5 separate regions of the Homo sapiens genome follow, and all the other regions are reported to be linked to region 5. Evidence: microRNA targets listed by miRTarBase, many of them from high-throughput screens and not tested one by one. Region 5 holds a microRNA gene; each other region holds the end of a gene's coding sequence.

What was found. Region 5 holds the annotated microRNA hsa-miR-296-5p (AGGGCCCCCCCUCAAUCCUGU, at 1,471-1,491, opposite strand). A microRNA usually pairs through its seed, bases 2 to 8, with sites in the 3' UTR of a target mRNA and lowers its output. Matches are read on the target gene's strand: a 7mer-m8 pairs with bases 2 to 8, a 7mer-A1 pairs with bases 2 to 7 and ends in A, and an 8mer does both.
Region 1: the mRNA of ZDHHC8 is a reported target of hsa-miR-296-5p. Seed matches in the 3' UTR shown: 8mer at 3,047-3,054, 7mer-m8 at 2,711-2,717, 7mer-m8 at 1,497-1,503 and 8mer at 1,463-1,470.
Region 2: the mRNA of SUSD2 is a reported target of hsa-miR-296-5p. Seed matches in the 3' UTR shown: 7mer-m8 at 3,358-3,364, 7mer-m8 at 3,300-3,306 and 7mer-A1 at 3,216-3,222.
Region 3: the mRNA of DLL4 is a reported target of hsa-miR-296-5p. Seed matches in the 3' UTR shown: 7mer-m8 at 1,204-1,210 and 7mer-A1 at 1,283-1,289.
Region 4: miRTarBase lists SP1 as a target of hsa-miR-296-5p. The part of its 3' UTR that is shown has no 7-base or 8-base seed match.

What each region holds. Positions count from the first base shown.
Region 1 is chr22:20,144,725-20,148,724 of GRCh38, reverse strand. ZDHHC8 (zDHHC palmitoyltransferase 8) reads right to left here. Exons shown (of 11, transcript NM_013373.4): 11 at 718-3,496. The coding sequence ends at 3,325. It overlaps CCDC188 (coiled-coil domain containing 188), which reads left to right. Exons shown (of 9, transcript NM_001365892.2): 9 at 1-309. The coding sequence ends at 111. Among named protein-coding and RNA genes, the nearest start is that of CCDC188, 4.3 kb to the left of the region's middle. RefSeq lists silencers at 1,489-1,558, 1,599-1,718.
Region 2 is chr22:24,188,003-24,192,143 of GRCh38, reverse strand. SUSD2 (sushi domain containing 2) reads right to left here. Exons shown (of 15, transcript NM_019601.4): 13 at 4,009-4,141; 14 at 3,817-3,919; 15 at 3,038-3,732. The coding sequence ends at 3,708. Among named protein-coding and RNA genes, the nearest start is that of SUSD2, 8.6 kb to the right of the region's middle. RefSeq lists an enhancer at 1,930-2,571.
Region 3 is chr15:40,937,171-40,941,311 of GRCh38, forward strand. DLL4 (delta like canonical Notch ligand 4) reads left to right here. Exons shown (of 11, transcript NM_019074.4): 10 at 248-356; 11 at 859-1,903. The coding sequence ends at 864. Among named protein-coding and RNA genes, the nearest start is that of DLL4, 9.9 kb to the left of the region's middle. RefSeq lists enhancers at 1,031-1,847, 3,130-3,189.
Region 4 is chr12:53,410,368-53,414,508 of GRCh38, forward strand. SP1 (Sp1 transcription factor) reads left to right here. Exons shown (of 6, transcript NM_138473.3): 6 at 560-4,141. The coding sequence ends at 873. Among named protein-coding and RNA genes, the nearest start is that of AMHR2, 11 kb to the right of the region's middle.
Region 5 is chr20:58,816,191-58,820,331 of GRCh38, forward strand. It overlaps MIR296 (microRNA 296), which reads right to left and starts at 1,504; the gene lies at 1,425-1,504. It overlaps MIR298 (microRNA 298), which reads right to left and starts at 2,123; the gene lies at 2,036-2,123. It also overlaps GNAS-AS1.

The DNA of each region.
Region 1 (4,000 bases), not on the chromosome of region 5:
CCTTTCGAGGGGCTGGTGCCACCCCTGCTGAGCCGTGCCACCGTCTGGAAGCTCCGGGCCCTGCTGGACCCCTTCCTGCGCCTCAAAGTGGACGGCTTCCTGCCCTTCTAGGCCAGAGGCCCAGCGGCCCCAGCAAGGAGGCCAGGCGACCAGCACTGCCCCGGATGCCCAGTGGCCGTGCCAGCCCCCTGCACATGGCACCACTGTGCACCATCCTTGCCAGAAGCTGCAGAGAAGGGTGGAGGTGGGGTCTGTCCTGAGGGCTGGGCCTGTGGCTGGACATAGAATCATGACATAAGTGGCCGGTGAGCACGTCTCTGTGGAAATTGGGGGAGGGATGCCCAGGCGATCCTGCAGCGAGGGTCCCTCAGGGTGGAGACCCCAGCTCAGGGCCGGCTTCCCACCCCACATCCTACCTGCCCTCCAGAAGGCAGCCCCTCTGCACGGGGCTCTGACCCCCCAAGGCGTCTTAGGAGGGTCTCCACTGAAAGGCAACAGCAGTAAGGACTGGGGGGTCCTCAGGTCTTGCCCCCTGGGCCAGGCCCTCCCAGGGACCTCAGAGGTCAGGTTTTCAGCGCTGAACCTGCTGATCCACTGACCTCATGCCCCTCATGCAACTCCCCTCCCTTCCTGGCCACCACCCTCCCTGCCCAGGTCCTGTCACCTCCCCAACCCAGGGCCCTGTCCGGTCCAGGGGACCACATTGGTAGACAGAGCTGATCAACACCAAAAATTTTATTTGGGGAATTAATTAGCAGGGGTACCCTTAAGAACAATAGAGAATGGTTTTGTGGCTTTCTCGTCCCCAAATGGGAGATGTAGAGCCACAGCCCAGGGTGGACCCAGGGACAGGGACCCTGTGACGGAGAAGGGCTGGCCGGAGTGCCACCCTGCCGCAGGCCGTACCACTGCTGGAGGACACAGGGCTTGGGCCTCAGGCCCTCTGAGATCCCGCCGGCATCGTCTCTGGGTGCAGGCAGCCCCAGTGGGGCCCAGGCGGAGCTGGCCAAGACCACAGGACCTTGGTGGCAGGCAGAGGCCAATGGCTCACCAGGCTGGTGGCTCCAGGAAGTTAAGGCATCTGTTCATGTGTCAGGGGAAGGGCAGGAGGAGTGCAGAGACCTTCAGGGGCAACCTGAGACCCCCCCCCCACCCAGCCCAACCCACGGAGGCCTGGGCTCCCCGAGGAGGAAGTGGCTTAGTCTAAAGTGCTTGGTTGGGTAGGGAGGCTGGGCAAAGGTCGTGCCGGTCCCCACAGCTCTGGGACTGCCCCCCTGTGGGGTGCTGGACCCCCTGCAGCAGGTGGGGGACTCCCTGAGGTCATGTGGACACAGGGTCTCAGGCCCTGGCAGGCTGGGAATCTGTCAAGCTGTGGCTGGTGGAGCAGAGAGCCCAGCCCACCCCCAGCCCTGCCCCAGGGTCCACTGCAGTCTGACCTCCTGGGTCCCCAGCTGGGCTGTCCTGGGCCCCAGAGCCGCCTACTTGTCATCCTGCTAGGGCCCCGAGAGGCTGGGGAAAAGACTGGAGGCAGCCAAGTGCAGGCGGCACATGGCCCCGCGTGGGGGTGCCCCGGCGGCCTGGCTCCAGGGGGCCCGCAGTGGTGGGCGGTCCTCCGGGCGGCCAAGGTGGCACAGGTGCAGCCCAGGAGGCACCCAAGGCTGGCCACGCCGCCCCCATCCACGGGTGCAGGTGCCAATCCGCCCCCTGCGGGCCGCGGCGTCCGTGAGAGAGAAGCAGAAAGGTGGAGGTCAGCTTCGGGGCCCTACAGCCCGCACGCCTCCCACGCTGGGACAGCCCCAGCCCAGAATGTCTCAGCCCTGAACAGCTGTGCATCCCTCACACTCCCTCAGCCCTGCCCCTGGCATGTGGCAGGCAGGAGAGTTCCAGCAGGTTCAGCGGCCCCCACAGGGCCCTGAGCCAACAGGTGGCCCCTATGCACCCCCATTTCATCTCCCCAAGCTCTCGGGTTCCTGAGAGTCCCCTGTGGGTAGCGGCAGACCCAAGTCTTTCCCCCAAACACCCTGTCACTGCCAGAACTGACACAGACCCAAGGCGAGAGACCCTCACACTTCCCAGCCACAGACCATCGGCCGCCCCCTCTTCCCAAGCCTCTGACTCAGCCCAAGTCGGCAGAAATGCCCCTGAGGAACCCACCGACCCCTGCACACCAGACAGCAGCCACTCCCTCTTCTGGGGCCCGGCCCCTGCCCTCCCCTAACTCGGGATCCTGCAGCAATAGCCCTGGCCTTGCCCAAGGAAAGAATCAAAATAACTCTTTTTCTTTTTTTTAATAAAATTATAGATATATAGATGTAGATATAAAAACATAAAACAGACACAACGCAAGCAGACGCTGTCATGTGCTTACTCTCAGGTCCCTGACACCAAGGGAAGCACTGACCCCTCCCCAGTGTGCTTTCCCACGGCGCGAGCACCGCAGCCAGGCCGGGGCTGCGGACGTGGCATGCCTTGGGGTGGGGTTCTCCAGTTTGGCAGGGAGGGCCTGAGGGCTGGGGAGGGGGCTCTGGGTGTCACCAGCCCCCTGTGGCAGCATCACCCCCGTGCCTGCTCCCGCCTGCCCCCCCGTCGCCTCCCACAAGAGCATAAAGCAAAGGTTAAGGCTTTGATGAAAGGGACAGCGGCGGCCGGAGCACTGACACATCAGACACGGCGCGGCAGCACAGCACACAGACACGGGACACATGGAGCCGGGCCCCCGGCCACAGCTGGCTGGCTGGCCGTCTGTCCACCTATCCACCACCACCCAGAGCAGGCCAGGGCAGAAGCATCAGCCTTGCCAAGCTACAAGCTTCCAGCGGGGTCCGTGAAAGGCAACGCGTTAGTTAGGAGTAGCCTGGCGGGGGACACTCGGTCCGGGAGCCCACAGGCTGTGTCAGAAGGACGGTGGGGGCCCTGGGTGCCTCTGTCCATCTCTGGGACCTGTCCGTAAGGGGACCATTGGGGGCTGGCCTGGCGGTGATCTGGGGTGCTGGGTGATGGCAGTGGGCCAAGCCTGGCTGAGAGAGGGTGCCCCAAAGAGGCTGACTGGGCCCCCTCACTGCCCCAGCCATGGGACAGGCCCAGACACAGACCAGCCCAGTGGCCCTTGTCCCAGTGAGCCGACTTCCCCATGGGCAGATGAGTGGACGGGCAGGCAGAGCGCTTGGGGCAAGCTGTGGAGGCGTGGCACTCTCTCCCGCCGATGGGTCCACACCAGGCTGGGGTGGCCTCGGGTCCCTGGGGCAGAGAAGTTGGTGGGGAGGGGGGGTGCGCTGTGGGGTCCTGGTCCCCGTGGCACCATGGCGGATGTGTGGCAGTCAGTCCTCACACCGAGATCTCGTAGGTGGTCCCACCCACGCCGGACACCTTCTTAACCAGCGTGTGCCGTGTAGGGCTGGCAGAGGGCCCTGGGGGGCCGGTGGCAGGTCCCAGCCGGGCCAGGCCCGGGGACTGCCCATTAAGCTTACTTGGGGGAGTCTTCAGCTGAGGGTGGTCCCTGCATCAAAACAAGCACATACACACATGCACACGGTGAACACACGAACACGGGGACAGAGGACGGAGGAGGCAGCAAGACAGAGACGACGCGGACGTGGACTAGTGCAGCCGAGTTGTGGGGCCCCGTGCAGTCCCTGCCCTCTGGGCTTGGAGGGTTCACCTGGAAAGCAGGTGAGGGATGCAGAGCCTGCCTGGGGAGCAGCTGTGCTGTCACAGGACAGACAGATGTTGTCAGAACTGCCACCACCCTCCCGAGTCCCTGGGTCCCTCCTAGCCAGCACTGGCCACAGAGAGCATGGGGCAGCCAGGTGGGCACTGAATGGAGCCCCTGCCGTGCCCTGCACTGGGAGCCCAGCCACTCTGCCTGGCCTCATTCCTGCTCTCTCTCAGGAAAACGAGGGGCTGCCCTCCTGCCCACCAGCGCTGACCAACAGCAGCTGTATCTTTGCTACTTAAACCTTCTTGAGGCGAGAGCCCTTTGTCCCCGGGCTGCGATCCCTGC
Region 2 (4,141 bases), not on the chromosome of region 5:
TCACCTCAGCCTGGGAGGTTGAGGCGGCAATGAGCTATGATCGCACCACTGCACTCCAGCCTGGGTGACAGAGTGAGACCCTGTCTCACAGAAGAAAAGTTTCTTTCCCATCTCAGCACCAACTAACTGCTTCAACAAATGGTCCCTGAAACATATTAAGGCTTAATCACAAAAGAAGTTTATTTCCTGGTCCTGGAAGAGTAGTGGGTGGGTGATCAGGTCAGCAGGGACTTGGTTGGCATGACTTCCAAAGTCAGTCATCCTCACATCCTTGCAACAAAGGGAGCTGGTGAAAGCCTGAAGGGGTGCCTGTGGGAAGCCGCACTCCTCCACGATGCCTCCTTGACTTCCCACTCCTACAGTGCGCTGCACCGACCCCCCCGCCTCCTCCTTGGCAGCATTGGACCCTGAGGACAGGGGTGTCCTGATGGGCCTAGCAGAGGTCTGGCCCACAGCAGGCACTCGGCCACCCTGGGGCTTGCAGAAGGAAGCAGCTTGGCAGAAGAAGGGGTCCCTTGCTCCCCAGCTGTGCCTGTACTGTACTGTACCGAGTCAGAGCCCTCCCTGGCCCCCAGATCAGCCGCACCCACTGTGCTCAGCCAACAGGAGACCTAGTGGGAGGCTGGAGGGCAGGGGGCACAGAGAAGCCGGGCTTCCCTACTCTAGCCAGCAGGGGACCTGCAGCTGGGCTGTCACCTCTGTGACTCCCCTTGGCCCACAGGCCTGCGTGACGCCCGCTTCCATGGGATCTGGGCCTGGCTCCCATAGCACATTCCTTCCTCCCTTTGCCCTTCTGCCCAAGGTGGGTCTTAGGATCCTGCTGGTACCTCATCGGCTCCTGTTTGACCCCCCCAGCTCTCTCATCACCTGTGTCTCCAAAGCCCTGGATTACCATCTGCCCCACTCTGACTGGTACCACCACGATGGTACCGGCCATTGGGTGACTCTGATACTCCATCATTTCAACCCTACTGTAAGCCACCCGCAAGCTCCCATGGCTGCCCGTCCTGCAAGCCCTGGGCTGCTATTTGGGAGACCATCTCCCTGAGGCAGCGGTCCCTGCCTTTGATGTCTCTAGAGAGTCTGCACCGGCTCCAGGCCTTCTGCCTTTGCACAGGCCCTGTCTCTATCTCTTTCGGGCCCCAGGAAAAGCCCCTGGCAGGTGGTGGGGCTTCCCAGCCTGGCCTGCCCCTGGCACTGGGAACATCTGATGTCTGGGACTGGGGCCACAGACAGGGCACCCTTTCTCCTGCTGGAAAGGGGAGGTGGGGGGGCAGACCAAGGGCCCATCCTGGAGGGAGACTGGTGGGGGTGGGGGAGCCCGAGGCAGGCCACACTTTGCTCTTAGGATGAAATCTAAATGCCTTGGCCTGGCAGGGGAGGCCTTGGCTGGCCCCCACCCCTGTCATTCCGCAGACATGACTGCACTTCTCTTTCTCTGAGCCTTTGCATAGACTGCTCCTCTACCCAGAACCCCTGTCCATCTGGAACCCCTGTCCAACCAATCAGAGCTCTGAGAATCCAACCTGTTTCTTGACCTCAGTTCGGGGGCTGCTCTTGTCTGGGACACCCTCTAGTGGACCTGATGAGCTGCCAAGCTGCCCCTGCCGCTCTTGGGCCCCCTGAAAACCTGTGCCCGCTCCCTCATGTCCAGGCCTTGACCCGGAAACTGACCTCTCACCCACTGACACGTGGCCGGCCCAGGCCTGGCGTGGCACAGGGGTGCGCTGGGGATTCAGACAGTGGGAGGGGAGCCCTGCCTTACCTCATCTGTAGGGAGGAAAGTACCTGCCCAGCCCGCCAAGGGGCTGACCCTCAGCCCCACCATGCCTGGAGGTGCAAACCCAGGGGAATGGGGAAGCAACGGAGTGAGCTCTAGAAAGAGAGAAGGCCAGACCCCATTCCCCTCCGCTAGCCTCCCGCCACCCCTGCCCTGCAACCCTCAGCTCGGTTCCCGCACACGTGCCCCATCATGCACATTCACCTCCTCCAGGAAGGCCTCAGATGAGACATGTCTCTGCCTCCCCAGCTCTCCCATTCACCAAGGGCAAGGCTGAGCAGGTGAGAGGCCTGGACTCCCACCCCATGGTCAGTGCCCGCTGAATGACCTGGGGAGACCTGTGCAACCTCTTCAACACTCCTGAGATGCGGGGATGACCCAGGTGCGGGGAGGCGGAGGGGTGGGCTGTGCGCAGACCTTGGCTGCGGTTGTGACCAAGTCGGCTGACCCAGCTGCAGGGCAGGGCTGACTGCCCTCCCAACCTCCTGCCACCCAGACTCGCTGTTCCTATCCTCTGCTGCCCCTATATGGCCACTCCCAGCGCTGCAGGTCACACTGAGGCGGCTCAACTCCCCACCCAGTGTTCTCTACCTGGCCCCCAACTTCCAGCCTCACCCTCTCCAGCACTTTCTCTGAGACCTAAGGGGCAAACCCGACCAATGCTACCCTGCCTGAGTCCCCATTCGGGACCCTCTCCACAAAGGTTGATGGACCCTGGTCATCCTCCAGCTGCTTCCAGGTCTGTGCCTCCATGCCAGGCCCCACAGGAAGCGCCGACAAAGAGCTGCTCAGGTGGGCCACCGTGGCCTGAGGCCTGGGCTCTGTGCCCAGATTCTGGACATTCCTGGGCTAAGGAGCCTGGGCGCTGGTCTCCTGAGGACTTGGAACTGATCCTGCCAGCGACTGCACCCAGCCAAGGAGCCGAGGCTGCAGGGCAGTGCTTGCCAGAGCACGCCAGGGCGTGGTGAGGGGGTGGCACCTCTGTTGAGGGAGGGGTTGTCCTTCTCCATCTCCTGAGTGACCCAAGTGAGCCCTGTGCTGTGTTGGCGGCCTCCCCACCCCACGAGGCGGCCACAGTTCTCCATCCCACTGCATACATGGAGAGAGAGCCTGGGGAGGGAGCATCCCCGGCAACCTCGTGGAGGAAGCAGGCAGGGCTCAGACCTGCCTCACTCTGGATACTGTTGGTGGTGACCCCGGGAGGCGGTCATGGAACTCTCCAGAACCAGGGCGCAGCATGAACACCAGGAGACCAGGGAAGGAAACAAGGCGCTTGTTTTCTCTTTGCACAGGCAGGGAGGGTGTTCCTGAGTGACCTTCCAGAAGAGTTCGAAATTATAAGCCTGGAGTGCCGAGGGAGGCCTCTGCCGCTGGGGGTCTCGCTGTCTGCTTTGGGGTTCTGGGGCCTCTCCTTACCCCATCTGGGGTCCCAGGATGGGCCCAGGGGTCCAGGAACCAAGGCAGCACTGCACTGGTGCCCGCACGGTCCGGGAGCAGGCCTCCGTAGATCAGGGGTCAGGGGCCCCGGCATCAGGCTCTGGGGAGTGAGGTATTGGAATCTGAGGCTCAGGGGTCAGGGGCCCCGGCGTCAGGCTCTAGGGAGTGAGCTATTGGAATCTGAGGCTCAGGTGTGGGAGTGTCAGGGCTCAGGACATAGGTATTAGAATCCCAGGGTATGAAGTTTCAGGTTTGGGGAATTAGAGCCGTGAGTATTTGGGGAAGAGCACGGAGCGCTGCTAGCACGGGGCTTGGGTGTTGGAACACTGGGCCTCCTGCCTGGGGTCTGAGATGACAGAGTAGGGGGTTAAATGCCCAGGTATCAAGTATCCAGGTCCCAGGTGTCTGGTCCTGGGGATGCGGGAGTCGCAGGACTGGGCTGCCTGTTCTCAGGAGTCTTGGCCTGGTGCTCACAGCCAAGCTGCTCCCATCAGGGCTGTGCACCCCAGACGTGCCTGCAACAGAAACGCAGTTAGAAGTAGCCTCGGTGGTCCCACCGGCTGTCTCGGGGTCTTGGGAGAGGGGCTGGGGGGTCTCACGTGTTGCCCTTCCTGCGGCGCAGCAGCACATAGACGAGCGCAACCGCCGCCACCACCGCGAGGCCCCCAAAGATGATGCCCAACAGCACCGCGTAGCTGCGTCCTGGTGAGGGAGCGAGTGTCAGTGAGGGGGCTCTCTGGGGTGGTGAGTGGGGACAGGTGCAGGCAGGTGTATGAGCAGAGTGTCCTCACCTGGCTGGCACTTCGGGGTGGGTGAGGACCAGGTGCCGTCAGCCTGGCAGGTGCTGGTCTCTGCCCCGGCCAGGCTGTAGCCGTTGTCACAGTGGAAGTAGATGGTGGAACCCGCCAGGTACCTGTTGCCCTC
Region 3 (4,141 bases), not on the chromosome of region 5:
GCTTGCCTCTAGTGGCAGCACTGGCTTTATGCAGGGCTCAGACCCTTCTGGTGAGGTTGGGAGGCCTGTGACTCTCTTAGGGGCCTTTTCCTAAGTGCCCCCCTGCAGCAGCCCAGCACTGGGCACGTCCAGCCCCTGTGTCTTCCCCAAGAACCACCCTGCAGATGCCCTTTGGCTCTCCAGGGTCCTCCCTCCCCCCAAGCCTCTCCCCGTCCCTCCCTTACACGCCTGTCTTGTGTTCCCTCAGTGAAAAGCCAGAGTGTCGGATATCAGCGATATGCTCCCCCAGGGACTCCATGTACCAGTCTGTGTGTTTGATATCAGAGGAGAGGAATGAATGTGTCATTGCCACGGAGGTGAGTGCTGGGCTCGCCTTTCCTTCTGCCTTTTGTGGGAGGGAAAGTGGCCTGGTCACTCTTGACCCATGGGCCATTCCTGAAGGGTAGGTCAGAACCCTGCCTTGGCAGGCCAAGTTCAGTGGACTCTTGGGTCCCTGCTGGCCTCATTGCCACTAAGGGTGTGAAACAGGAACCATGGCGGCAAGCCTGGTCTGGTCCTTTCCTGCTGTATTGGTGCTGGGTTGGGCAGCCACGGCACTGCTGGCCAGCCTCTGATGGGTGAGGGGGCCCCTCACCCCTTGTGCCCTTCCTGCCCCTTCCCACTGGCTTCCTCCATTGACCTCATGAGCGCAAGCTCCCAGGCCCGTGTGTGTGTTGGGCCGAAGACTGGGGAGGACTGCCCCACCTGCCCTTAGCCCCTGCCTGCCCCATCGCCTTCTCCCAGGGAGGCCCAGGGAGGGCCTGGAGGGAGTGCGCATGCCCAGGGTAACCTGTTTCCCTGCCTTCCGCTTGCTCCCAGGTATAAGGCAGGAGCCTACCTGGACATCCCTGCTCAGCCCCGCGGCTGGACCTTCCTTCTGCATTGTTTACATTGCATCCTGGATGGGACGTTTTTCATATGCAACGTGCTGCTCTCAGGAGGAGGAGGGAATGGCAGGAACCGGACAGACTGTGAACTTGCCAAGAGATGCAATACCCTTCCACACCTTTGGGTGTCTGTCTGGCATCAGATTGGCAGCTGCACCAACCAGAGGAACAGAAGAGAAGAGAGATGCCACTGGGCACTGCCCTGCCAGTAGTGGCCTTCAGGGGGCTCCTTCCGGGGCTCCGGCCTGTTTTCCAGAGAGAGTGGCAGTAGCCCCATGGGGCCCGGAGCTGCTGTGGCCTCCACTGGCATCCGTGTTTCCAAAAGTGCCTTTGGCCCAGGCTCCACGGCGACAGTTGGGCCCAAATCAGAAAGGAGAGAGGGGGCCAATGAGGGCAGGGCCTCCTGTGGGCTGGAAAACCACTGGGTGCGTCTCTTGCTGGGGTTTGCCCTGGAGGTGAGGTGAGTGCTCGAGGGAGGGGAGTGCTTTCTGCCCCATGCCTCCAACTACTGTATGCAGGCCTGGCTCTCTGGTCTAGGCCCTTTGGGCAAGAATGTCCGTCTACCCGGCTTCCACCACCCTCTGGCCCTGGGCTTCTGTAAGCAGACAGGCAGAGGGCCTGCCCCTCCCACCAGCCAAGGGTGCCAGGCCTAACTGGGGCACTCAGGGCAGTGTGTTGGAAATTCCACTGAGGGGGAAATCAGGTGCTGCGGCCGCCTGGGCCCTTTCCTCCCTCAAGCCCATCTCCACAACCTCGAGCCTGGGCTCTGGTCCACTACTGCCCCAGACCACCCTCAAAGCTGGTCTTCAGAAATCAATAATATGAGTTTTTATTTTGTTTTTTTTTTTTTTTTTGTAGTTTATTTTGGAGTCTAGTATTTCAATAATTTAAGAATCAGAAGCACTGACCTTTCTACATTTTATAACATTATTTTGTATATAATGTGTATTTATAATATGAAACAGATGTGTACAGGAGTTTATTACTTATTGGGTCCTGTCTTTGTGATGGTACCCCTGCCCTCTCACCCAAAAAACTCTAAACTCCCTTCTACTGCTGCCATGTGCCCCGCCGGAACCCCTGGGACCCGTGCAGACACTTGGATTTGGCATGTCGTACCCCAGGCCCTTGTCTTCTTCCATTCGTTGAGGAGCCGAGCCTCACCCATCTAGTCCCCAGCCTCAGCCAGCCTTCCTTGCCTGCTGACTTTGAGTTGGTACAGTGCCCCCTTCCCTCTTTATGCCCTCACCATTCCTGGGGCATGTTCCTCCTGACCTGAATCACTTCTTCCTTCCTCTCTTCAAGCCTGAAAAAGCTTATGGGGCTCCCTAGTTCTGCCTGTTTTTCTCATATTCAAAAGGATTCTCTTGGCCGGGAGCGGTGGCTCACGCCTATAATCCCAGCACTTTGGGAGGTCAAGGCGGGCAGATCACGAGGTCAAGAGATCGAGACCATCCTGGCTAATAGGGTGAAACCCCGTCTCTACTAAAAATACAAAAAATTAGCCCAGTGTGGTGGCGGGTGCCTGTAGTCCCAGCTACTCGGGAGGCTGAGGCAGGAGAATGGCATGAACCCAGGAGGTGGAGCTTGCAGTGAGCCAAGATAGCGCAACTGCACTCCAGCCTGGGCGACAGAGCGAGACTCCATCTCAAAAAAAAAAAAAAAAAAAAAAGCATTCTCTCGTCGGTGGATGGGATAGGGCCTCTGCACCCTGGTGACATCTGAGTCCTTCCTCCTGCTGTTGCAGGGTGCCTGGCTCTTTTCTTAGCCCCAGCAGGGTACAGGTCTCAGGAGACAGGGCAGGAGGGAGGTTTGCCTTGTTTTTCCTCTTTGTAGCAGACAAGAGCGCTGAGAGTCTGAGCACCTTGTCTGCCCAGGGCTGCTAGAATTTATTGAAGACTGCAAAGACAGGGAGAAAGGGGAGGAGGAGGTAGCCTTCCCTGAGTCCAGGTTTCTCTTGCTGAGGCACTAATGAGGGGGTTTCCAGTCTCACTAGGAGTTTCATGCCTAGCTTCCTCTAAGGCACAGGATAGTCCCTAGGGTGCCACAGCCCTCTCTATAGCCGAAAATATGCTCCTCCATGGAGAGCAAATTATGAAAAAATGAGCCACTGACAAAAAGCTGAGCAGATGCTCCCAGCTCTCAGCCTGTCCACAGTAAAGCAAAATAGACCCATTAGATGCCCTGCTCCTAATGGAGTCCAAGGGTTTGGAGTGCTACTTGCCCTCCCTTTTTTCCTCTCTCCTTGACACAGACACACCATGCCCACCCCAGACCTGGGTGCTTATGCCAGAGACACAGGAGCACGCACACGCTCCACGCCTCACTCATCGCTCCCTGTTCCCTTCACTGTACACACAGGGTATCAAACAGGAAAGCATTCAGGGAACCGTTCCCACAGCCTGAGCCGGCAGCAGGGGGAAGAACAACACGACCTCACTCTTCCTGCCCAAAATGAAACAGGAAAGCAGCTCCCAGGCCCTAGGGGTGTACGGGAGGGGGGAACTGGGCTGGGACACGAAGGCAAGATGACGAGGCTCCCATGTGGGGGACAGGTAGGACACCCGCAGCCCTGCACGTCCACAACACCAGGCTGTGACGGGCTGCACAGGCTGCCAGACTCGCAGAGAAGAGCCCCGGAGAGGAGTTGGCTGGCAAAGCTCACAGCTGCTCTGATGCACTAGATGGGGAGCTGGAGAGCCCACCAAAAAAGCTGGCTTTCTGGGGAAAGTGGGGACCCGTGGGGAACTTGGTCTGGGCAGCTCCGACCTGCAGCTCATGCCAGGCTCCACCTTTAACAACATCCCACAAGCTGGGCAGGCACTTGGGGTGTAAACAGGCCACAGCGGAGGAAGCCCCTTCTCCCCAGGATTTCCTGAGAGTCCAGCCCCTTCTGATAGGTAAGGCACCCAAGACCCTCATGATCACTTGAGTGTCCTGGGGTACAGGAGATTTCCTAGGCTTGGCAGAAAGGAGGCCAGATAATGGTTCTAGACTCACTGTGAGGTGCCTTCCACAGGTTAGCAAATGCCCACCTTTAATTTGCATGGGTATTTCACCAGGGAATTCGGAGTTTAGTAGTTCCTTAACAGCCTGGAGCCAGTGCCCTGCCTGGAGAATCAATTTGACCCCACGGTGACCTGAGGACAGCTGCTTTTCCAGGGCCCCTCGGCTGGTAGAGTCAGGGAGGGGTTGTGCAGAAGGAGAAATGACTT
Region 4 (4,141 bases), not on the chromosome of region 5:
TTGAAACCATTACTCTTAGTCTCTGCCCTGCCTTACTTTTAAAACTGCTAAGTTCTACCTTCCTTACCGAGTACTCCCCAACCTTTATCTAGTTTTCTTCCTCACGCCCCCGCCAAAAGGAAAATATACTTGAAGTTTTTTGTTTTTTGTTTTTTTTTTGAGACAGAGTCTCTGTCGCCCAGGCTGGAGTGCAGTGGCGCGATCTCGGCTCACTGCAAGCTCCGCCTCCCGGGTCCACGCCATTCTCCTGCCTCAGCCTCTCCGAGTAGCTGGGACTACAGGCGCCCGCCACCACGCCCGGCTAATTTTTTGTATTTTTAGTAGAGACAGGGTTTCACCGTGGTCTTGATCTCCTGACCTCGTGATCTGCCCGCCTTGGCCTCCCAAAGTGCTGGGATTACAAGCGTGAGCCACCACGCCCAGCCACTTGAAGATTTTTCTTGTTTTTGATCACCTTCTCATACTGGCCTTACTCAGCTTAGTAGAGTAAGCACTGAATTGGGTAAGGTAACCTCACTTCCTAACATGTCAGCTTCTTATCTTTTCTTCCTTTACCTAGGTGAGAAGAAATTTGCCTGCCCTGAGTGTCCTAAGCGCTTCATGAGGAGTGACCACCTGTCAAAACATATCAAGACCCACCAGAATAAGAAGGGAGGCCCAGGTGTAGCTCTGAGTGTGGGCACTTTGCCCCTGGACAGTGGGGCAGGTTCAGAAGGCAGTGGCACTGCCACTCCTTCAGCCCTTATTACCACCAATATGGTAGCCATGGAGGCCATCTGTCCAGAGGGCATTGCCCGTCTTGCCAACAGTGGCATCAACGTCATGCAGGTGGCAGATCTGCAGTCCATTAATATCAGTGGCAATGGCTTCTGAGATCAGGCACCCGGGGCCAGAGACATATGGGCCATACCCCTTAACCCCGGGATGCAAGGTAGCATGGGTCCAAGAGACATGGAAGAGAGAGCCATGAAGCATTAAAATGCATGGTGTTGAGAAGAATCAGGAGAGGGATACAAGAGAGGAGATGGGGTCCCGGCACCCATCTGTATCATCAGTGCCTCTTTGAAGGTGGGAAACATTAGTGAAAATTCTGTTGGTGCCACGCTTTGATGAGCATTTGTTTGACCCCAGTTTCTTCTTACACTTCTTACCCCAGCCTACCCTTCCTGCATTTCTCTTCTCAGCTCTTCCATGATGGATTCCCCCCCCTTTCCTAAAGCCATCATGCCTTGATAAATATATATGATCATTGAAATACTTTTTAACAAAAAACAGATTCTATATTATTATATATATATATATATATATAAAGATATATAGAGATGCATTCACAGGGGTTGGCTGGGAGGAGGAAGACCATTCTGTGACCAAAATACCTTGGTCATTTTTTTTATATTGCCTTATTTCCCTATGGCTGAGCCTTGTTGTGACACATCAAGCTTTTCTGTAGATGTTGTCTTGGCTTCCCACCAGCTTAAGCGTTCATATGCTCTGCTTTTAGTTCATATATACATACATAATGTTTTTCCTTTCTTAATTTTGTCTTTTTGTTTGGGATCAGCTTCTTGCACTCCTTCCCTAACTCAACTGTTGCCGTCTCATCTTCTCTCATCTGATCACTTCATGTTTTGTTTTTGTTACTGCCTGGATGAGGCACTTCTGTCAATTTTTTCAGGACCTTAGTTCCAGCAGCAGAATGGAAAAATCCTTGAAGCCCAGGCTGATGCTTGAAGTAACTGTGGAGGGAGTGTTCAAAATACTACTGACGCAGGCACCTTCTTGGCGCTGGAGAGTCAAAGGCATCTCCCTTCATTAGCTGCTCTGAGCATCAAGAATTAGAAGTCTTTCAGTGGAATTGTACAAGAGTCCCTTTGAAGATAATAATCTTGGCTCAGTTTGTATAAACTGTCAAATTTTCAAATAATAGGTAGGGGGCTTTCACTAGGAAAATCATGTGCTCAGAAGAGGAAATGACTCGTAGTCAGGTTCAGGAGTTAGTGGAGTATTTGGACTTTGGTACTGCTGTCTTCCAAGGTAGCTCTAAGTTTTGATGTGTGGGCTTCTGAGTTTATATTCTGAAAGGAAATACACTTCTTTTGAACATCCCCACTAGGTTCTTTTCCATTGTCAATAAGGAGCATCAGCCAGTGAATCTGTTTCAGGTTTCCATTCTGCAGAACTCCTCCAAAGCATGTGCTAGTGGCAAGACAGTGGTTCTTATGATGTTTTCCCTTAACTTTTCCTTGTATGTTCTTGGGTGGTTCCTAAGGGAAAGGGAAGCACATGATCATGGGAATGATAGCCCAGAACAAAAAGAAATCTTGTCTTACCACAGTGTTTTATAGGAGAGATTGGGAGAAATCATCCTGTTTTCTCTGTGACCTGATTTCAGAAGAGACTGATCCAAAAATTATAACGGCAGGGAACCTAGTGCATTTGGCACTGAGATTTAAATGCAACCAGAATTGTCCTCAAGGCCCAGCCATAAAAGCATTGTCTCTCTCGACCTTCTGGTATCTTGTTAGAGAGCTTTTCACTGTGAGGAAGTGTGGAAAAATAGCTCTGTGTGTGTGTGTGTGTGTGTGTGTGTGTGTGTGTGTAATCTGTTAGGTTGGGGATAGGTTTTCTGCTAGCCAATATTAAAAGAGACCTGCAATAAAAAAATTACCCTGATCTGATAGAAAGCAAGTGTTTTTGTATGTGTGGGTGAATGTGTGTTCATGCCCGTATATGTCTACACACAGATGACAAATTATATTTGAAATCGTTGGAAAATAAATTCAGATCAAAATGCCTTTCAGGCCCATTACCTAGAAATCTATCTTAAAACCTGGGTATGTTCCTAAGGTCATTTCTTTGCTTATGCTAAATTAATTACAATTATGAATGGAGGATATTCTACTGTACTTTTTTAAAAAGAAACTATTTTTGTGTTTGAAAGTGAAACCAACATCCAGATCTATAGCAGAGTCCTTATTCTTCTCATAAATCTTTTTACTTTGGCTACAAATAGATGATGGTATGATTCTATTATATATTTTATATAAAATCCATCCAAATTAAGTTTTGGGTAAGTGTGTTGTTTAATCTGAACTATAGTAACTTAATACTCTAAACAATAGTTCACTCCATTTGGTCCTTTCTCCACAGATGTAATTATGTTTTCAACTCAGGAACTATGGCAAGGAACTTTCCCCAGATCAAATTCTATTAACGCTGAGATACAAGTCATCCATGCACAGCCACTATCATACCCTTTATTCTCACTGAAAGGCAGAACTCAGAACCTGTTATTTTATGTCTGTAATCATGTACTTTGGCATCTTTTGGAGGAAAGGGGCAGGATAACTCACTGGAATGTACAGTATTTTGCTAGTGCATTTCAAGGAATGGAATCTTCTCCAGTATGAAATTACCAGATATAAAATAATGTAATGATGCTGAGGATATAAGCTTTTAGAAGGTAATTTGATGGTATTTCTTTCTCGAATGAAAAGCTGCTGGTTTACCCTCAACCCTATTCATTAGCATTACCATGAGTGAATTTATATCTAATTATTTCCACTTGCCCTGTTCTCTTCACACCAAGGAAGCTCCAGATCCAGTATCTTGTTTGGCCTCAAAACAGAAGCAGCTTCTTTTGTCTCCCAGCAGTAGTGAGCCACTCAGTCTCTTCCACAGGAAGTTTGGAGCCTACATTCCTTGAGTCAGGAGCTTATTACAGAAAAACCCCGTTTCCCTGAACTTTTGGCTAACAGAAATTAATTTAACTGACATGCATATTGATTCTGAAATTTTTTTCCTAAGTTTTTTTCATTTTTTTGAATGAGTTTTTTAAATTTTTTAGATGACCAAAACTTGCAGGGCAGGGGATGCCCAGAAGAGTGGTGAGATAGTAAAACACTTATTCCCTCATCCTTTCAGGTTTTCAGGTTGCCCATTTATATTCATTTACATGTCATTTGACTGTCTCACTTTTTACCCAGAACAGTAACAACCCACACCGTCTTCCTTCAGGGATTTCCAACTGGCACTCTGTGGGTGCTACACAGAATGCAATTTAATGGATATTTCTCAGCCTGGTTCAGAATAAATTGATCCTTTGATCCCAGAAAGTATATACTGAAGTGTGGGATAAAGA
Region 5 (4,141 bases):
CTGGCCTCTTGCCCCATTCACACAAGGCCTTTTCCGCCTGGTACCTCAGCTGTGGGGCCTGGCTGGTGTAACTCATGGGGCCCCAGTGGGGGGCAGAGGGGCCACTGGTTTCCTGGCCTGCTGTCTCCACCAGGGTCTGGATCCAGGCACTTCTGCTGACAGCGCCCAGCGCGGGGCCACCATGTGCCCAGCGGCCTCCTGCAGAGAGGCCCCTGGGGAAGCTCCCCACTGGCCCCCTTTCCCCTGCCTAAGGGGAGGCCACAGCCACGGGAAGGGCTCAAGAATGGACTTCAGGGGTCCCTGAGACCCCAGAACTTTCAACTCTGAGTGACGTTCTTGCACTGGGAAGGGCCACTGTTCCTGCAGGTCCGGACTCTATTTTGGAGACTCCGCCAGCTCTAGCAGGAGGGAGGCTCACCCTTGCTTCTGCCCTCAGGACAGATGTGGGGACACTTTGCACCCCAAGTCCTCCTAGCCATGCCCGGCACCTCCCACCAAGTCTTGTCCACACAGGGAGCGTCAGGCCACCCTGCCTGTCACACCCCAGTTGCCTTCCTGTCTTTTCATCTTTTTGCTCTGTCCATCCACTCATCCATTGGTCCGTCCAGCAATAACCTGAGACCTGCTCCGTCCTAAGTGTATGAGAGAGTTCTGCCCTTTGGGGTTTAGTCTGGTGGGGGAGACAGGTGTTAAGACAGTGAGCCCGCAACTCCCCGCTGCGCTAATGCCATGAAGGCAGGGCCAGCCGCAGCAAGAGGAATCACAGTGGGGGCAACTGGTTCCACGCAGGAGTTGAGGGTGCCATGTTTCCAGCATGACCCCCAAGCAGCCACCATGAGTCAGAAGCAACCCAAGACCGTCAGACACTGCGCACTTGCTTCGAGGACTCTAGCAAGCAGAGCTGGGCTCTATGAAGAGTAAATACAAGAGCAAACATCCACCACTCTTTCTACACAAGTTTATTAGGCACCTGCTGGGTATCACGTGTGGAGACAAGCTGGACAACGTAACAATCCGCAAGGCAGCTACGGCCTTGCCCTGGAGCTCCCAGTCTAGCAGGGGTGGAAAACAGGTAAGCCCCCCAGCGGAAGCCCCAGACCTGGCATGCTGTGAGGTCGGGGAAGGAGCGGGGGCTTTCCCGAGGAGGCGTCAGTGAGGGTGGAGAGAGCCTCCGGAAGGGGAGCGGGCACCGGCGAGGATGGCACCGCATCCTGCAGGTGCTCGTGGCTGAGGGTGGGAGGTAGGTAAAACTCCCGGCAGTGGGGACCCACGGGAGACTGTGGCAGAGGCGCGGCACGGCGAGTTCACCATTCCCCAGTGCCCGGCCGCCCCAGGGGACTCAGCAGCTGACATGACAGGGGCCCCTCTTGTATCGACTGTCCTGTCTCCACTCCTGGCACACAGCTGCGGGTGCAGCGCTCTTCAGAGCCCTTCAGGAGAGCCTCCACCCAACCCTCTGAATTAGGCACAACAGGATTGAGGGGGGGCCCTCTGGAAGGGTCCTTTCTCCTCACCTCCCACATGAGGCTGGGCCTGATTTCACAATTTCACTCAGGATCTTCCCTCCTCAATCCTCCCAGCCCTGTCCCATCTCAGTGGCCTGTGGTGGACCCCAGATCCACAGACACAGGCCCTCTCCGCACAAGGGCTCACGTGGTCCCCAGCCAAGGCCCCTACAGCACTTTCTACGGAGCCCTCTTCCCAAACATGCACATCCAGCTTGCCTCTCAGCCACCCCGCCTCCATCTCAGCTCCAAGGAGGCCTTGGCAGCAGGCTCGGGGCGCCATGGAACGGTTCACTGCGTCTCTGCCCTGGCCTCACGTGCTGCCGGCTGGCCTTGCCATTCATCTTCTGAAGGCTATTCTCTGATGGCTCTGCTGGCCACCTTGATCTGAGTGGCAGGTCTGTGCTAACAGTGTTTTGTGTGGGGCCCTGGGAGAAGAGTCCATGAACCACTGCCTAACTCAAGTGCTGCCACGGTGAAGCACCCCTGCCTAGTTCTGAACAGACGCAGCACATCAAAGGGGAGCCGGCAGCTCACTCCTGAGCAAAGCAGCAGGCTAGTTCCTCACAGTCAAGGAAAACCACTGGGAGAACCTCCCTGCTTCTGCTGAAGACCTGAGCTGCTTCTCCCGGGTCCCCCAGTGCTGACAGGCCTCTAGCATCAGGTCCATGTGGCTGATTCTGGAGATCTTTAGGAGGATGGGACTGGCTGTTGAGAACTGTCAGTATGAGTCTGTCTGGCTACTCTGCCTGGGAACATTCACTGAGACATAAAGAAGATATTAAATAGCTGGAAAATTAGGAACCCAGCTAGGGCTGGAGGGGAGGTCTTAGAGGATCATTCTGTAAGTGCTGCCGGGGAAGGAACAACGGTGAGGGCTCAGGCTGGCTCTCTCTAGGGTCCTCCACAGGAGGAAGAAGACCACAAATCTAACCAGCCTAGCAGCCCCAGATACACAGAGCACATGTGGACAAAGCTGTGGCTGCCTGCATTCCATGGGATCATCTTGTATGCAGCAGTAAGAAGGGTCTGTTCTATGACTGCTCTGCTGCCTTTTTTTTTTTTTTAACAGCAGCTGGTTTGGAGTCTCCCACGTATTGCCTGAGGTGGTTTGGTGGTAACCAGCTAACAAAAATCCTTTCATTTTAGGTGCCTGTGGGTGGTGTGGTCGCCACCAAGAATGAGTCAAGCCATTTCTAAAGAATCCACAGTAGGCTCTGTCTGACAGGGTGCATCTGGGAGGGCCTGCCGGGCCTTTATTCAACACTAGATACGCCCCATCTCCAATTCTAATGGACATGTGCAGAAAATGTGATACAGAAACCTGCAGAGCAGCCAGTTCCCAGCGGACGTCAGAGATCAGCTCTTACCTCAAGGATCTTGCTCACCAAACTCTCTTTGCTTATCAAACCTTTCTTTCAGAGGGCAAAGGTTAACTCCCATCTAGAAGAGGTTGAAGTACTATGGTTTTCAAACCAGGAACGTGGCACTAATGAGGCGGAGCTCTGGAGAGGCACAGCTGCAGAAGGTTCCAGGGACCCTTGGAAGCAGACAGGGACCCTTGGGAGCAGACAGGTTTGGAATAAAAACAAAGAGAAAAACAGGGCAAAGGATTAACAACAGAAATGAAACCAGGCGCACACACACTCACCTGCGGCATGATCGCCTGCGGTCACACTCCAACTTGATATCTTGCTTCCAACGGCCAGAACGGCCATCAGTGGAACTTACTTTCACGGGCAATCTTTAGGCTGTTGTTTATTGTTGATTTAAGAGAGAAGCAGTTATGGTTTTGAAAACATGGCCCTTTTTCTGATGGGGGGAGAGCAGGTTTCAATGAAATGGGTGTGGAGTCCCAATCTCCAAGGCCTTTGTGTCTGATCTGAGAGAAGCCATCTGCCAGAGTCAAATTCTTCAGGGCCCTCAAGAACAGAGGGCAAGAAGCCAGGCTTAGATAAGCCTTTTCTGAAGCCCTCTGGCTGGCCAGAGAAAGGAGGCAGGGCTATGGTGCTCCACTGATCCTGTAGGGCCGGGGCAAGGAATGGGAACCCAAGCAGAAACCAGGCAACCAACCAGGATTGTTTCCATCATGAAACAATAGAGCAGGCAAACCCATCTACCTCTGGTCCCAACCTTTGTCACGGACAAAAAACCCAGACCCACACAGGTGACCACGACCTCAGTGTGAGGTAGAACAGCTGGGACCCGGACTCAGGTCCAACAGGTGCCCAGGGCAAAGGGGTCCTCGCACCCCGCCCCAGGTGACCCTCCCAGAAAAGGGGTGCTGAATGCTCATCCGTACTGCCTCTGCGGCCGTGCCATCTAGTGGGGAGGGGCTTGGGCACTCTGTGCCCCACCAGAGCCCCCAGGTTCTCAATCTCCAGAGTTCAGACGCCCGCTCCAGTGGGGGCACCAGGAATGGCAAAGAGATGCCTTCACGGTGTTGATGGTGTGCGCCAGCCACCCATGCACATGACCTGGTGTTTCTGTCGTGGAACTGGAGATGCGGCCTTAGGTGCTGACCGCTGAGCCACACAGGTGGGGCTCACTTTCTCACCTATCAAGAAATATACATGGGAAACCCACAGAGCCCTGCCTCCTGGCCCAGCTGCCAAGACGAGGCTGAGCCGAGCCTC